Linked DNA regions of Homo sapiens: region 1 is linked to region 2. The links come from fine-mapping of genetic effects on gene expression. A gene starts in region 2. The other region holds a variant in brackets. All regions are shown on one strand. Distances are from middle to middle.

Evidence for each region. PIP is the estimated chance that this variant, and not a neighbour inherited with it, causes the effect.
Region 1: its variant is fine-mapped to the expression of SLC9A3 in substantia nigra (GTEx, PIP 0.98).

What each region holds. Positions count from the first base shown.
Region 1 is chr5:487,637-495,949 of GRCh38, reverse strand. It overlaps SLC9A3 (solute carrier family 9 member A3), which reads left to right. Exons shown (of 17, transcript NM_004174.4): 2 at 3,879-4,181; 3 at 7,474-7,634. Among named protein-coding and RNA genes, the nearest start is that of SLC9A3-AS1, 19 kb to the right of the region's middle. RefSeq lists an enhancer at 1-8. The variant C/A (reference allele first, on the strand shown) is at 3,143.
Region 2 is chr5:519,552-527,864 of GRCh38, reverse strand. It overlaps SLC9A3 (solute carrier family 9 member A3), which reads left to right and starts at 3,416. Exons shown (of 17, transcript NM_004174.4): 1 at 3,416-3,753. The coding sequence starts at 3,543. LOC107986395 (a long non-coding RNA gene) reads right to left here and starts at 3,207. Exons shown (of 2, transcript XR_001742543.1): 1 at 2,902-3,207; 2 at 410-1,453. RefSeq lists an enhancer at 1,217-1,849.

The DNA.
Region 1 (8,313 bases), 32 kb after region 2:
TGGCGCGGGGAGTGGAGCGTGGGGAGGGTCGGCGATGGCGCGGGGAGTGGAGCGTGGGGAGGGTCGGCGATGGCGCGGGGAGTGGAGCGTGGGGAGGGTCGGCGATGGCGCGGGGAGTGGAGCGTGGGGAGGGTCGGCGATGGCGCGGGGAGTGGAGCGTGGGGAGGGTCGGCGATGGCGCGGGGAGTGGAGCGTGGGGAGGGTCGGCGATGGCGCGGGGAGTGGAGCGTGGGGAGGGTCGGCGATGGCGCGGGGAGTGGAGCGTGGGGAGGGTCGGCGATGGCGCGGGGAGTGGAGCGTGGGGAGGGTCGGCGATGGCGCGGGGAGTGGAGCGTGGGGAGGGTCGGCGATGGCGCGGGGAGTGGAGCGTGGGGAGGGTCGGCGATGGCGCGGGGAGTGGAGCGTGGGGAGGGTCGGCGATGGCGCGGGGAGTGGAGCGTGGGGAGGGTCGGCGATGGCGCGGGGAGTGGAGCGTGGGGAGGGTCGGCGATGGCGCGGGGAGTGGAGCGTGGGGAGGGTCGGCGATGGCGCGGGGAGTGGAGCGTGGGGAGGGTCGGCGATGGCGCGGGGAGCACTGTGAGTCCCCAGGGCACAGAGTTGCGTTGTTGTTTTTAAAGACAAAGCTGGTCCCTGTGTCCCTGTGTCCCTGACTTGCTGGCCCGCGGTTGTCTGGGGTGGCTTCACAACGGTGGTGATCGCTGTGAACCTAATTTTGGAAGACTGTGGCTGAAAGACCCTAACCCTCAACAAAAAGACCCCGGGCCAAGTGTCGGCAGCCACCAAGGGTGAGGGCGTCCAGGAGCTCCGAGACTCCCGCTGCTTCCCAGGTCTGACCTGCGGCCACGGCGCCCCCCCACCTGGGGACACGCGGTCTCTGTGGTCGCTGGATTTTATCCTCAAAGCAGCCCACGTGCCGGCGGGCACCGAGGGGCCACACGTGCCCCGCTGGCTGCTCCACAAGCGCTATTGGACAAATACCATCTCCCAGGTCTTGTGACCCTGAAAAGAGGAGGACAGGTGAGCCGATTACCCCTCCAGGAGCCAGCCTGGGACGTGGGCAGAGGCAAAGAACGTGCATCGTGTAGAAAACAGCGGCCTGGGTGGGTCTTGCCAGCGGCTGGGCAGCCTCCAGGGGGTCACCATCACCACGGCTGTGCCCGGCTTTGCTAGGCACTCGTCGCCAGCAGCAGAGGTGACGACGTCGCCAAGGACAGATGTGAGAGGCGCGGGTCAGCCTGCGGGTGGGCAGGCGCCGGCACCGGGCACAGACCACCCTGGTCTTCCTAACACAGCTTGGGACACCAAGGCGGGGATTTACAGCCCTCAGGAAGAAAGGAAGGAAGTGGTAAACTCCACTTCTCTCTGGACATTATTAAAAAAATCAGGAGGCTGCAGAGGTGGGAACACCTGCCCCAGGCCTTCCTGCACCATAGGGACCCCCAGCAGGACTCCCAAAGGCCTCGGAGCCCTTAGTGTGCAGACTCCCATGCCAGCCTAGAACCTGCTGAGTCCCGGCTGTGGAGGGGGTCCCAGGCTGCCCTGAGCAGAGGCCACAGCCTTCCCCTCGCAGGCCCGGAAGGCCACCCATGTCTCTTCCCAAAGCTCTGCGAGGCCAGGTCTGTCCCTGGCCACCACAGGGACCAGGCCGTGGAGCCCAGAGAAGAGGGGCCCCTGTTTTCCTGCTGGGCTGCCAGCCCCGTGAGCCCAGATCTGGGGAGGGCGCTGCTGAGGACGGGGCTGTCGGGGCACGCGTTAGGGTCCCAGGACTTCTCACGTGCATCACAGCCACTCCCAGCTGGGGAGCACCTTCTAGAGAAGGGAGAGCTGTGGGGAGAGAGCAAGGTCAACCCTACGGATGCTCTCCTGCTGAAAGCTGGAGCAGACGGGACCCTGCAGGCCAGCTCTGAGCGGGGCCCCGAGGACTCCAGGGAGCTCACCCTCCGTGTTCCCCAGGGACAGCCTCCCTCCCTCATTCCAGGCCAGGCCCTCCCTCATTGCAGGCCATGCCCTCCCCTGGTTTGGTTATCACTGTCGCGTGGTTCCAGCCTCCCCGGGCCAACCCCCGCTGCCCTGCCTGACAGGTGTGGAGCTCAGATCTGTGCAGGATGTGCAGCCCGGAGTGGGGGAGCCGTCGGGGGGCTCAGAGAGCCTGTGGGGCACATGGTGGGGACGGGGCCCACAGCAGGACCTCCCATCCTGAAAGCAGGAGCCTCTGAACCCCGATCCCTCCCGGGGCTGGTGTTTTGGAATCTGGAGCAGCAGGCAGAGCCGCTGTCCTGGGGACAGGGTCGGGAGACCGCAGTGCAGTGCTGGTGGCCGGGCAGGTGCGGAGCTTGTGCCTGCCACCCTCCCTAGAGGGGCCCATGCCACCCGTGGTATTTGGTGTAAGACCATCCTCGGGGAAGGAACGGCAAATCCAGAACAGCACCTCCCTCCTCTGGGCCAGCACCCGGCCCTGCAAGAGCTCCGTAATTACAAGGGAGAAAACAGGCAGGGAGGGCCGAGCTCGTCAGGGCCACGCAGTCGGGAAGGGTGGGACGTGGCCACTGCCTCCACCGCCCCTCCAGCTGTGCTGACACATTCTTCGGGGGCGGGTGGTGTGGAGGGAGCCTCCCCGCTCCCGCTGCTCTGTGCTTAAATGGGGTCTTGGCCATCTCAGGAGACAACTTTCCTTTGAATTTCAAAGAAGACTTAATAACCAGCAGCTGAGGGAATGAAGAAGCTCATTATCCCTTACATCACCGAAGCCGGAGGACGCACCTCATTTGTCAGGCTTCCCGCTATTTTGAAATCAGGCCGAGCGCAGGAATTCTCATCACCTTTTTTTTTTTTTCTGAGTCCAACTAAAACACAGGAGACATGGCCCAGATAGGTTGGTGCCTGCACCCCCACCCACAGGGCCGGGCAGAGCCTCTGAGGTCCTGGCAGGGGCGATGGTGCTGGGGGACGGGGTGAAGCTCCACGGGGGGTCCCCAGGACCTGCTGTCCACCCTTAAGCTCACCCGTGCGGAGTGGAGTGGCGGGACCCAGAGACTCTTCCTAGAACACCCCACCCAGGGGCCGTGATCCCAGGAGAGGGGCACGAGGAGAGGGGGCCACAGCCTCCATGGGGCCCCTCCGGAGGGGTCTGAAACACAGCCAG[C/A]CTCAAGTGGGAGCAGGCTCTGGCCACAACGTCAGGGACAGGGTGAGCTCAGACCTTGGTCACCAAGGCAAAAGGCACAGAGCGAGTTGGGGGTCCGGGGGACCAGAACCAGCCGGGCGGTGGGGCGGCAGGTCAGAGGCCCCCCCCCGACCACCGTCCATCCAGCACGGGCCTCCACCCCATAGCACCGGCTCCCTCCTCCAACTGACTCCCTTCTGGGGGCTCCAGCAGCTGCCCCTGCACTCTCCTCGTTCCCAGCCCTCTTGGGCTCCCTGAAAAGTCGGGGGAGGTCTTAGATGCCTGCAGCTCTGAGCCCTGTGGGACCTGATCACCTGGACCTCCCTCCCCTCCCCCGAGGGCTCTGCCCTGACCTCCCTCCCCTCCCCCGCAGGTCCCACCCCGACCTCCCTCCCCTCCCCTGTGGGTTCCCCCCTACCTCCCTCCCCTCCCCCATGGGCTCCCCCCACCTACCTGCCCTCTCCCAAGGCCCCACCCTGACCTCCCTCCTCTGCCGCACGGGTCCCACCCCGACCTCCCTCCCCTCCCCTGTGAGTCCCCACACCTTCCTCCCTTCCTCCACGAGTCCCCGCTGACCTCCCTCCCCAACAGGCCCTGCCCCGACATCCCTCCCCTCCCCCACGAGTCCCCACACCTCCCTCCCCTCCCTCACAGCCCGGCCCTGACCTCCCTCCCCTCCCTCACAGCCCGGCCCTGACCTCCCTCCCTTCCCCCACAGGGTTCCACCTGTCCCACAAGGTCACCAGCGTGGTTCCCGAGAGCGCCCTGCTCATCGTGCTGGGCCTGGTGCTGGGCGGCATCGTCTGGGCGGCCGACCACATCGCGTCCTTCACACTGACGCCCACCGTCTTCTTCTTCTACCTGCTGCCCCCCATCGTGCTGGACGCCGGCTACTTCATGCCCAACCGCCTCTTCTTCGGCAACCTGGGGACCATCCTGTTGTACGCCGTCGTGGGTACCGTGTGGAACGCGGCCACCACCGGGCTGTCCCTCTACGGCGTCTTCCTCAGTGGGCTCATGGGTGAGTCTGCGCCACTGTTGCCCCGGCCGGGATCAGGGTGGGGTCCGGGAGGGGCGGCGCTGCCTCATCTCAGAAAGGTCGGGGTGCCGCACCCTGGCCTCCAGGCGGTAAGTGTCAGGTGAGAAACGTGGCTGGCAGCCCCGTAGGCCCTCGTGACCAAGGCCAGTCCCCTGCGCGTCCCCAGGTCCCAGCACGTGTTCTGCTTGGGGAGGAGTTCCCATCTCGGCAGCTCGGCTTGGGGGCTGCAGGTGGCCAGGGGCTGCCGCTCTTCCTCCGGCACTGGGCAGAGGTAGGGGTCCGTCCACACTCGCCGGCCACCAGGTCCCAGGGAGAGGAGGAGGACTGCAGAGCCTGGTGTATCGGGCACCGTCCCTCCCAGCCTGTGTGCCGGAGCCGCTCGGCCACCGCTGCAGCCACAGCCGGAGCCAGAACTGCTGCGCGGTTTTGGTCTTGGATGCTTCATCTCTCGGGCACTGCCTCCCGCCCCGGACCCAGACCACGCGTGGCTGGCGCCTCTCAACATGCCAGGTGCGGTGCAGCCCTGATGCCCGCCGCTGCTGCCGGGGATGCTACAGCTTTGACCAGGTGGGTCCAGGGACCTCAGGCAGAGCCTAGCTTTGACCAGCTGGGCCCCACGGCTGAGCGCAGGCCTCCGGCACCTGCCGCCCTCACCGGTCTGAGAACTCAGCCTCAAACAAATCCACCAGCTGAACCAGACTCACAAGAATTGGCGATTTTCCGTCTGGTTCAAGAGAGAGCACGGCCCGGCCTCTCCATGGGAATCAAGGGGCTGAAACCTGAGACCAAGGAGACGCATGGAGAAAGAGGAGCTCCCGGGTTGGGGCCGCCTCACCCAGCACGTGGTTCCTTGGCGCCTTCTCACCCCTCCCTGTAGTCCCTGCCGTCCAGCATCACCCACCAGGTGCAGCCCAGGGAAAGCTGCCGAGGGCACAGACAGGCTCATGGATGGCAGGCCCGTCACGTGGGCGATGCCATAGGTGGTCAGGACACACCTCGGATGGGGCAGCCGCCCTAGCCACCGCACCCAAGGGAAAGCCTCAGGGGTTGTAGCAGAGACTCCTGGACCCGCGGCCCCTCGAGGCTCACACCTACCTTGCCAGATGGCCCCTCGCCCATGAGATCCCAGCTTCCTCCCAGCTGTGTCGAGTGTGGGATGGAGTAGCCTGTGATCAGTCTGGCCGTCAGGGCCGCTCCTTTGAGAGCCGGGCACACTCCGTGGCTCTGTGGCCACGTCACAATGGTCCCCGCCTAGCATTGGCCAGAGACACTGCCGGATTTCCCTTGCACGAAGCAGAATGTCCTCGGTGCAACTGGCCGAGCCTGGAGGACGTCCTTGCTGCACCTGCACCATGAAGCCCTGGAGGACTCCCCACACCAGGACGTCACCCCTGGCCCTCCCCTGCCCCTCGCCACGCTGCACTCCACCCCTGCCCCTCGCCACGCTGGACTCTACCGTCCTCCAACAACGCTCCTCATGAGAAACACGTGTCCCAGGTATCGCTGTGCCCCCTGGGGCAGGCCGCTCCCCAGGTGACACGGATGCTGGAGGCCTGCGCTCAGCCTTGGGGCCCAGCTGGTCAAAGCTGGGTGCTGCCTGAGGTTCTGGAACAGAGATGCCCATGGCCGGCAGGTCCATCCCATTCCTGGGAGTCCAAGAGAGCTGGGAGGCTGCAACTGATCTCTGCAGACCAGAGGCCAAGCCCTGTGGAGCGTCTCAAGGCCAAACGTGCCCCATGGGAAAGGGTCGACATGGCAGTGCTGGCCCGGGGGCTGTCCGGGCAGTGTGGGGACAGGCCCTGCGAGAGCTTCAGGCATCAGAGGCCCTTGCACAGGCAAAGCACGTGGTGGAGAAAGGCCTGGAACATGCGGTCTGGTGGCATGAGCCCTCCTGGCACGGCCGTGGGCAACTGTCCAGACGGGAAGGCTGCCGGCCGGGGAGTCTGAACGCGGCCGACCCCAGGACATCCATGGGGGCCATCACTGCCCTGGGGGCGGCCGTGCCAGGAGGCCGCGTTTAAAGATGACCTTGAAGGGGATTCGTGTCCTGAGGCCTGAGTTTGGAAGAGGAGAAGGCTTGTGTGGTTCCCGTTCCAACATGGAACTTTAACTCCCTGAACGCTGGTTCTTCTGGCATCTGTCACTTCCTCGGGGTGTTGTGACACTGGCCAGAGGCTGCTGGGGCTTAGGAGCTCACAGCAAACTCGGGGTTTAGTCACCGCAGAGATGACCCTGATCTGTCCCCTCCCAGGCGCCAGCACAGAAACCCCTGGCCAGGCTGCTCTCTGCTGTCTCCTGGGGCCCGTCCGGCTCCAGGGACAAACCCCTCCTCAGCCCGAGCCTCAGCCCAGAGGGGTGGTGGGCTCCGCTCCAGCCCAGCAGAGAGGCAGCAGCTGTGCGGGGGGACTCGTCGGGGGCCTCCCCCTCCCTGGGTGGTCTCTCCCACACCCTCACGGCCCTGGCGTCTCCTGGTCCCTGGACCCTCACGGCCGGGAAGGCAGCAAGGAGGCCCAGTGTCCTCTGAGCCCTGCGGCCGTGAGAGAGGGCAGACTCTCGGGGCCACGTGGCCACACTCAGTTCCCTGAGGGTCCCCTGGAGCCTGGCACCCCCACGTGGCCTCCTCGAGGCCTGAACCCTGGGTTGAATGGCAAAGACTTGTGAAGGATAAGGCTGCATTTCAGTAAAACCTCCCCAGCGAGGGGCACCAGAGCCCACAGGCAGATGCGGGGAGGGAAGCCGGCCGGGAGCTAGGGACCACATGGACCCACGTCTTCCGGGCCCCCTTGCTCCCACCGCAGCCCTGCTCATCCCCACAATCTGCCCCCACACCCCCAACGGCCCTCCCACCTGCCCCTCCCTGGCCGCGCCCCTGGGTGCTGTGTGTCCCGGCTCCGGGCCCGTCCTGGGTCAGCCCCACTTGCTTCTCCTGGGCTGGGACGCCACTCCAGGCGATGGGCCCCCATCCCTCCCCAGCATGCGGTGCCCCTGCACCCACCTGCCTCCGTTCACCCAAAGATGAAGGAGAGGGCCAGGGCCAGGGTCAGTCTGTCTGTCTGTCTTGCTCAGATGGGGTGGCCCCCTCGGAAGACAGCAGCCTTCCCTGGAGGGGGCTGGGGGTCTGTGGGAGGGACGCAGGAAGCTGACCCAGCTCCCCACGCCACCGGCGCCAGCCAGACGGGCTCCGAACCCCGACCCGTAGGCGAGCGCCTCCCCAGGGCCCTCCTCCTCGGGTGGCAGGCCCTGCAGCTGCCCCGCGGCCCGGCTTGTCTTCCAGGCGACCTGCAGATTGGGCTGCTGGACTTCCTCCTGTTTGGCAGCCTCATGGCGGCTGTGGACCCGGTGGCCGTCCTGGCCGTGTTTGAGGAGGTCCATGTCAACGAGGTCCTGTTCATCATCGTCTTCGGGGAGTCGCTGCTGAACGACGCAGTCACCGTGGTGAGCAACGGAGCCACCGCTCCAGAGCGGGCGAGCCGTGGGAGGCCTGGGCCCCGTCTCACCCCCCATCGGTCAGTCAGCAAAGGAGGGCGTGAAACCCTGTCCTCAAACTCCCCTCCCGGGGGCGTCCCGTCCCTCCACCTCCTTCCTCCCAGCTCAGAACGACTGGCAGCTTTCGCGAGGCTTCTTTGTATCTTCCACAGTTCCCAGGCCCTGCCCGCCCACTCCATAGCTTCAGGGTTAATGATGGCGCTGTTGAAATCCCGCCCTCCTGGTCCCCAGAGCGTCTGTGACTTTGGACCCACAGTTACTGCCACCCATTCCTGAGTTCCTAAAAAATACATGAGTGGCCGGGTGCGGTGGCTCACGCCTGTAATCCCAGCACTTTGGGAGGCCGAGGCAGGTGGATCACCTGAGGTCAGCAGTTCGAGACCAGCCTGGCCAACATGGTGAAACCCCGTCTCTACTAAAAATACAAAAATTAGCCAGGGGTGGTGGCACGCGCCTGTAATCCCAGCTACTGGGGAGGCTGAGACAGGAGAATCACCTGAAACCAGGAGGCAGAGGTTGCAATGAGCCGAGATCGTGCCATCGCACTCCAGCCTGGGTGACAGAGTGAGACTCCATCTCAAATAAAATAAATACGTGAATAGCAAACAACAAAATCCCATAGGAACCA
Region 2 (8,313 bases):
GGATCCAACAACCAATAAGAGTGGCATTGACGGGAGGTGGCATGACGGGGGGGCGCGGTGGTCTCTTTCCTGGAAGGGCATCTCCCAGAGGGGCCTCTTGCCTGAAGCTGAGATGTGCCTGGCACACAGCAGGTGTGGACCAAGGGAAGGCCAGCAGGTGTGGCTCCCAGTGGAATAAAACCTTCCTTAAGAAGACCTGGCCCCTGACAACTTTGGGTTGAAAAATAAACTTAGAGTGGGCAGTGATGCCTGTCTCCTGCCTGGCTTCAAGCATTGGAAGTTACTTAAAAACTTAACTTTCTTCTCTTAAATATTGTTAACAACAGTATGAATGGATGCGCCTCTTCATCCACAAGACACTTTCACAAGCCGTATGTGGAATTCATGACAGGAAATTAATGTGACAGACTAGGTGTTTTCAGTTTTATTTTCTTAATCCTGAAGTTCAGATGCTGTGGCAGCTGGGTATAAGATTACAGTTGTTTTCCGACTGGCTTTTGCATTATTTCCACATTTTTGAATGTTTTACAGCCACGCCCCTTCCCCATACGTGCAGGGGGTCCCTGGACCACAAGGGGTCCAGGCCACGGTGGAAGGATCCAGAATGCTATGCGTGCCTGCCTGAGGCAGGAAGTGGTCGGGCAGTTATCAGATCGTCACCACCCACAGGACAGGAATGTTCTCAGGATACTTCCCAAGACCCCCTCACACACACACACAAGTCTCTGGGTCTTTTTGGCCATGAGGATGTGCAGGTTGTGCACTGTACAATTCCAAGGGGCACGGTTCATACAGTCTGCCTGATATGGATGGTGGCCCCTGCAGTGGTGGGGTGCCACGGCCCTGCCTAAAACCACGACCCAGTTAGAGGGAGGGTTTTGTGGCTCCAGTCCGAGGGTAGGGGAGTGGGTGTGCACACCCTGTATAATCCCCTAGACTGGCTTCTGCATGAGGCTGGCATCCTCAAGGCCATGCCCATCACAGGCTGGGGCAGCGCCCGTCTGCCCCGAGCCCTCCAGCAACCTTGGAGTGCAGACGCATTTCATCCTCCAAATGCTCACAGATTGAGATGCTGCCAAACAGCCACACTTCTCACCTGTGCAGGGACTCGTGGGCAGTGGGGTGTGCCCTGGCAGGACTCGTGGGCAGTGGGGTGTGCCTTGTTCTGGCCACGCCACTTCAGGGGCTCATTGCCTTTCTATTCTCCATGAGGCAGCCCTTCCTGCTGTGGGGGGCAGTGGAGGTGTGGGCAGCACACTACCTGATGGCCAGCGCCTGGCACTGGTGTCTGTTCTGGATTTGTCCTTCCAGGCAGTGACACTGCTCTTCTGCCCTTTGAACAGCTTTGTGGAGAAAGGTTGTCGGCTCTTAGGACAGGCTGGTTGGGGGGTGGGGTGGCCGGAGGTCCAGTGGGCATCATGGAACACACTGGTCTGGTGGAAATTTGGCCTTCCTGTGGAATGCAAGGGCAACATCTTCAGAGAGGACGTCGTTCCTAACGGCTCCACCCAGGAACCATAAGGAAAGAGCAGGGAAGCTCCGGACTGGAGGGAATCCTGTTCTTGTCCTGCTGGCTTTTTCTCTGGGACAAGAGGCTGGGAGTGGAGTGGGGGACAGAGACAGGTGGGGCAGGGACACAGGCCAAGAGCGACTCCGATGCTCCCACCTCGCAAGACCATACTAGTGGCCAGTCACACACTTCCACTCCCCCGGTGCCCTGTCCAGACCCTGCAGTGGCCCAGGCCAGGGCTGCCCTCCCTCCACGCCACTCAGCAGCCGAGTCACCAGGCGAGCACCATCTGAATGCACCTTCCCTGTGCTACACGGGCCACTTCCATTAGCATGAAACTGGGGCCCTTGCAGGGTGAAGTCATTGAACTCAGCACTGTCCTCCTCAGGCCTCCGCAGCCCCCACTCAGATGTCAGAAGACACATCCATCCTCCATCTGCACCCACCCCACCGCCCACCTGCCCTTTGTCCACCTATCTGTCCTTCCATCCATCTATCATCCATCCGCTCAGCCACTATCTTGCGAGTGCTATTGTGTGCCCAGCTATCTTCCAAGCTCCTGGGATGTATGCATGAGCCCCTTGCTCGTGGAGCAGACATTCCCAGGGTGAGGGCAGACAGCTCAAGGTCAAAGCCAGCAGCCCCCAGGGCTGGGAGGTGAGCTGATTCCCGGAGCCAACCGAGTAAGCAGGGGAGGCGGGAGCTTAGCTGCCACAGTTGTGAGCTGAGTGGGTATCGGGTGGGACCAGAAGGTGGCATTGGAGCCAAGCCCCTGGGGAGCTGAGGAAGGGAGCACACAAGAGCCGTCCAAACAGAGGGAGCAGGGCGTGCAAAGGCCCCGAGAGGCGCCGATTGCTGGTGTGGGCCGTGGAGTGCATGGGGGTGGGGGTCAGGCAGTGGCTGGGGTCTGAGCTCCCGGGAGACGTTGAGCCTTTCCTCTGAGAGGGAGGGTCCCAATAGGAGGGACTGAAGGGGCAGGTAGAGGGCCGAGCAGGAGCCTTTGCAGGTGGCTGCAGGCTCCCAGAAGCCGCTGGTTTTGTGCACATTTTGAAAGTAGAGCAGATATGCTAAGAGCTTGGAAACCTTGTGAGCGAAAGAAGTCCACCTGCGTCCCAGGTCTGGGGCTGGAAGGCTGCAGGGTGGGCTTGGAGGAAAACAGGGGTGTGGTTTGCACAGTGGAGCCTGAGATGCTTAAGAGAGCCAGTGCTGCCGGAGCGGGCTGTGGGCAGAGGCCCCGCATCCGTGTGAAGCCCTGGGGGTATCGAATTGTTTTGGGCGGAGGTCTAAAGGCAGGGGATGGGGCAGGGGAGACCACGGGGGCCCCTGGGCTCCCATCTCAGAGCCTGGGGTGGGGGATGCTGGCTGGCGATGGGAGGGGCAGAGAGACTTACCAGCGCACCACGCAAGGCCTGGGCGCCCCCGAGTTCTGGTAAGTGGCCGGTCCGGCTGTGGAATGCAGGTTCCTGCTGAAGACAATAGCGAGGGGCTGTGTGAAGACACACCTGGGGCCCCTGTGCACCCTTGGGCCGCCCTGTGGGGTCTGCGCAGCCCCAGGCCCTGCGTTTATGAAGGAGGGTTGGGGCGAGCGCACCCACAGCTGCCCGGGCATCCCAGGAGCTGCGCGGAACCGCCTGTCCCGCTGCCCCGCGCTGTGCTCCCCACGCCCCAGGAAGGCGGCCGCGCAGTCCCGGGCTCGCTCTTGCCGCGACCTCCCGGACCTCCAGGCCGCGGGCTCCGGGGGAGGGTGGGCACCAGGGAGCGCGGGGTGGGCGTGCGCGGGCGGGGCGGGCGTGCCGGGAGCTGCGGCGGTGTCTGCGCTCGCGAGTGCGCGGCGGGGGCGGGCAGGCTCCGCCCCGGGGCGGGAGGGGGCCGCGGGATTAAAGGCCACCCCGGCGGGCGGGGATCGGACTGTAGCCGGTACCGGCACCGGAGCGCGCCGGGTCCTCGCCGGGTCCCAGCCCCGCGCGTCGGCCCAGCCCAGCCGGGACCCCCCGCGACATGCGCGTCCCAGCCCTGCGCTGAGCAGGCGGCAATGTGGGGACTCGGGGCCCGGGGCCCCGACCGGGGGCTGCTGCTGGCGCTGGCGCTGGGCGGGCTGGCGCGGGCCGGGGGCGTCGAGGTGGAGCCCGGCGGCGCGCACGGCGAGAGCGGGGGCTTCCAGGTGGTCACCTTCGAGTGGGCCCACGTGCAGGATCCCTACGTCATCGCGCTCTGGATCCTCGTGGCCAGCTTGGCCAAGATCGGTAAGTGGCCCCGGGGTCTCCGGATCTGCCCGCGGGGTGTGCGGCCGCCTCTGCTGGGCCTGGGGGCTTCGTTGTGGCCGCGCGCATCAGGTCGGAGCCGCGCGGCGGCCGCCCGGGAGAGTCCGGCTCTCGGGTCCAGCAGAGCGAGACTCGGGAGCGACTCTGGCCGCGCTAAGCCGCCCCTGCGGGTCCCGAGGTCTCCCCTCCCCGGCGGGGGCACAGCCTCGGAGCCCCGGACTCCCGGCTCCCGGGTCCCTGTGGGGTCTCCGCCCCGCCTCCGCTCCGAGCCCCGCAGACTGCAGGCTGCTCGCGCCCAGGGAGTCCCCGGGGCCGGGTTTCCTTCGGGGTTCTCAGGCTTTTTAGAGAAACGTCCTTGGAGTGATGGCGTTTTTTCGTGAGTTACAAGGGCAGAAAAGAAAAGCGGTGCTACCCGCATGAAACCCAGCAGAATCCTCCCTACAGGCGCAGCGTTCCCATTGGCGGGCCTCCTTTTTTTTTTTTTTTTTTAGAAAATCCCGGTCGGTCAGATTTCTCTTCTTCTTAACCGGCGCCAATGAACCAGTAATGTGGGCACGGCAGGTAGCTCCTGGCAAGGTGACAGGAAGGTCAGCTTCCTGAGGAGCTCGTGGGGATCAAAGTTTCATGTGTTGGTCCACAGGGTAGGGTCTCTCCAGGGGTGGCAGGGAGGTGGTCACTCGTGTGGAGGGGGGATTAGGGGGCCCGAGTGGGGCCAGGAGAAGCAAGATCAGAGCAGCAGGCGCCGCGGCAGGTTTCCAGAGCAGCTTTGGACTGGGGCGAGAGGAGGTTTCGATGCTGGGGCCGAGGAGGGGCGCCCACGCAGGACAGGGGAGGGACAGGCTCCGGGGAGAACAGCTGAGAGGACCTTGGCCTTGGTGGAACCTGGTACGCCCAGCAGGCTTGATTGGAGAAGGCGCCTTTTCCTTCAGTGACGCCTGCCGCCTGCCCTATTTATGCCAGGGTCTCCCCTCCCCTTCAGGCCCCTTGTGTGTTTGCTTTCTGTCTCATAAGGGCTCTTCTGAGCCCTCCCGCCTCCTCCCTTCTCCGCAGCCTCCTCCTCGCCCTGGTGTCTTTCAGCTCCCCGCCGGGCTGCCTGCTCTCCAGGCTCAGGCTGTCCTCCCTGGGCTTTCCACTGGGGGCTTGGGATGCTGGCCGGGGGGGAGTCTCTGAGGCTGGCTGCCTCCTACAGTTGATTTCCTTGAGAAGGGCCCCTGGGGCATCAGGGAGGTCCAGACTCAACCTGGGCTCTGCGGCCGCCCAGTCCTAAAGCTCACCCTGCTTTCCTCTGACGGGAGTGCCCCCCTGGTGTAAACTGAAAAGGTAATTTCTTTTTTTTTCTTTTTTTTTTTTTTTTGAGATAGAATTTTGCTCTTGTTGCCCAGGCTGGAGTGCAATGACGCGATCTCGGCTCACTGCAACCTCCACATCCTGCCTCAGCCTCCCGAGTAGCTGGGATTACAGGCATGAGCCACCACGCCCAGCTAATTTGTATTTTTAGTACAGACAGGGTTTCTCCATGTTGGTCAGGCTGGTCTTGAACTCCAGACCTCAGGTGATCCACCCGCCTCGGCCTCCCAAAGTGCTGGGATGACAGGCGTGAGCCACCGCGCCCGGCCGTGAATATCTAATTTCTGTACAAGCTGGGGCCTCTCCCAGTTTAGCCCAGTGTACAGAGTCAGAATCTGGCATCTGAAGGTCCAATGACAGCCGCCAGGCACCAGCCAGCCCCGCCTGGGAGCCGGCAGATAAGGCACACTGACCAGGGCTTTGCCTGGCCTCAGAGTTTGTTATTCACAGGGAAAAGCCTTCAGGTCTCCCAAACACTTGGACTGGTTCTGGGAAGACGTCCTTGAGGGCGGGGAGGCTGCCGGCTCCAGCAGCAACTCCCCGGGGCAGGGCGGTCCTTTACAAAGGCCCACCCTGATAGCACTCAGCGGCTGTCTTTGTCTCGGATTGTTGGCTCCACCTGGGAAGGCGAGCCTTACCCTGTGCAGCTGTGGGAGCTCATCGCGGTATCCCACAGGCGCAGACCCTCTCCAGACCTGCCCTTTACGCTCCCTGTCGTCCCCTCAACCCACTGTGCACTCTGCAGCCCCGGCAGTGACAGCTGAGGTCTGCTCTGGGTCTGCCCGGATTGGCCCCCAGGGTGTCCCACCCTCCATCCCCTCTCTGCCAGCCACACCTCTTGAACACAGCCCCCAGCCCTCCCTGTGTGCTTCCTCCCCCAACCCCTTCCCTGTGAACTCTGGACTTCTCAGATTCCACTGGCCCAGACCGTCCTCCTTGTGCAGCCAGCCTCAGGTGCACGACCTGTGTTCCCAGAGGACCCTCAGGTCCAGGCCTTCACAGACACCGGGGCCCAAGCCTGCACCACAGCGGGAACTTCTCCAGTTTCACCCAGCCTCCTCCACATGCCCACAGCCCCCGGACTGGGGTCTGAACCTACTAAGCTGCTTGGCACATTTTGTTGTTTAAAATGGTCAGGGGTTGGCCACACTCTTTCAGTCTCAAGTTACACGAACAGAAATGTCTCTTCCAGCAGAAAAGAGCTGCCATTCCTGTTGCTTTTCCAAACATTTGTTGAATTTCTCACACATCCTGAGAGTTTCTAACTCACAGCCCCAGCCTTCTTCAAGCCATTTGTAACCTGGTTGGGGAAATAAGAGTCCGGGTACCCTGAAACCCACAGCAATGTTGATCCCAGGAGATTTCTACTCCAGGCAGCTTGGGACAGAGGATGGCCAGAGGGCCAGAGCTGCCTCAAGCAAACACTGGGGCTGGGGCCTCAGCAGGTGGCCCAGGAGCCTGGGCAAGGAACAGGTGCTGCTGTTGGCCCACCAGCCTCAGGCCGCGTGTCTGGCTCCGGCAAGGGCTCCCCACAAGCCCCCTATTTGTGTGCACTGGGGTTCCCCTGCCTTTTACAGCATCTTTTTAAAATGCAGAAGGGGAGGCAAGGGCCGAGGCCACGGAGCCACTCCACAGCGCAGACCTCCCAGACTGAGAGGACGAGGAAGTCTTTAGCAGTGGAGGCGGCAGGGCCTAGTGTCTGCCTCAGGCAGGGTGAGGGGGCTTCCTCCTGTGCCCCTTGGGGGCCCCCAGCCTGCAGCCACCCGCACCAGGGCCACTCTAGGCCTTAGGTGCCCACCAGAATCCCCGCCTCACCCTGCACCGTCCGTGTTGGGAACCCTGGGCCAGGCTTTCCTTCCTTCCTGGGCTTCCTCTGGGGGCTGAGGCTGTGCCTTGCAGAGACTGCCAGGCCTGGCAGCACTGGGTGGGGGCCCTGGGGTGGGATCCAGGCAGTGGCAGGTGTCAGGACTGCAAGCAATGGGCCCCTGGAAGGAGAGGGAGGCGGGGGTGTCAGAAGCCAGAGGAGGAGGCCTAGGGTGGGTCCCTGGGGAGGCAGAGGGAGGCCCGAGCAACTCAGCTACAGGCCTTGGAGGACTTTGGTCCCCACCTAGCGTCGTGGTGAGGAGTGGATGTGGTCAGATCTGAGTTCTCAGACGACTGCCTGGCCATGGGGCAGAGAATGGCACCGGGGAGATTCCGGGAGGATGGTGGGGAGCTTCCCTTGGGCATCAGGGCGGTGGACAGCAGGGCCTCCTTGAAGCAGGAGTGGGGATGTCACAGGGTCATCAGTGACACAGCAGGGGCCAGACCTCCTGGCCCCATCCTGTTCTCAACCCTTCGGGGGGCTCTGCTGCGCTGACCTCGCCCTGCAGCTCTGAGCCACACATGAGCGACAGGACCCGACCAAAAGGGAACTGGGGGAGTTACAATTTTGAGATGTCGGAAACCGGGGAGGGGCTGGGGCCGGGAGTGGATTCTAGGCCCAGCTGGGTCTATTTGTCCCCAGGCGTCTGGCCGTGGGTACCCCTTGGGTCGTGGACGCACAGGAGGTGTGGGAGCTGACATCCCATGGGGCCTGAACTCCAGAGCTGGGCAGCGCTGGCTCAGGGAGGTGGCGCCTTGAGGGTTAGGACCTGAGCAGCGGCAGTGACTGCCCACGGGGAAACCAGGACAGTGGGGCTGGGTGGGGGCGGTGGGGGCAGGCTCTCGAAGTGGAGCTTGTGTTGCTGAGGGATGTGATGGCGGAGGCCCAGGCCGCCCCACATCTTGGTGAACCCTGGCTGGAAGGGCAGGCAGGAGCGAGACGGGTATCTGGAGTCTGCAGTGCCTCGCGCAGCCGTAGGAGGGTCAGGAGGACGCTAGGGCACAGGGTCAGGAGTGCAGCCCCCTGCTCTGAGCGGCGCAGCCCCCCCACCCCCCTCTGAGCGGCGTTACCCCCACTGTGGGAGTGTGGGAATGCTTTTCTGCAGGAGCTTCAGCCTTGGGGTTCCAGCACCTCCTCCTTAACTGGACAGGGTCAAGACCCAGATCCCTGAGCGCCAGGTTCCCTGCTCCCGGCCCCAAATCTGAGGCACTGGGTGCTTCCTTGTTGTCTGGGTGGGTGCAGGAGGTCGTCCTCACCCGACACTTGACTCCCGGACCCCCGCTGTCTTACCCAGCGTGTCCCAGGGAGCCTCCGCCACTGGGGGTGTGACA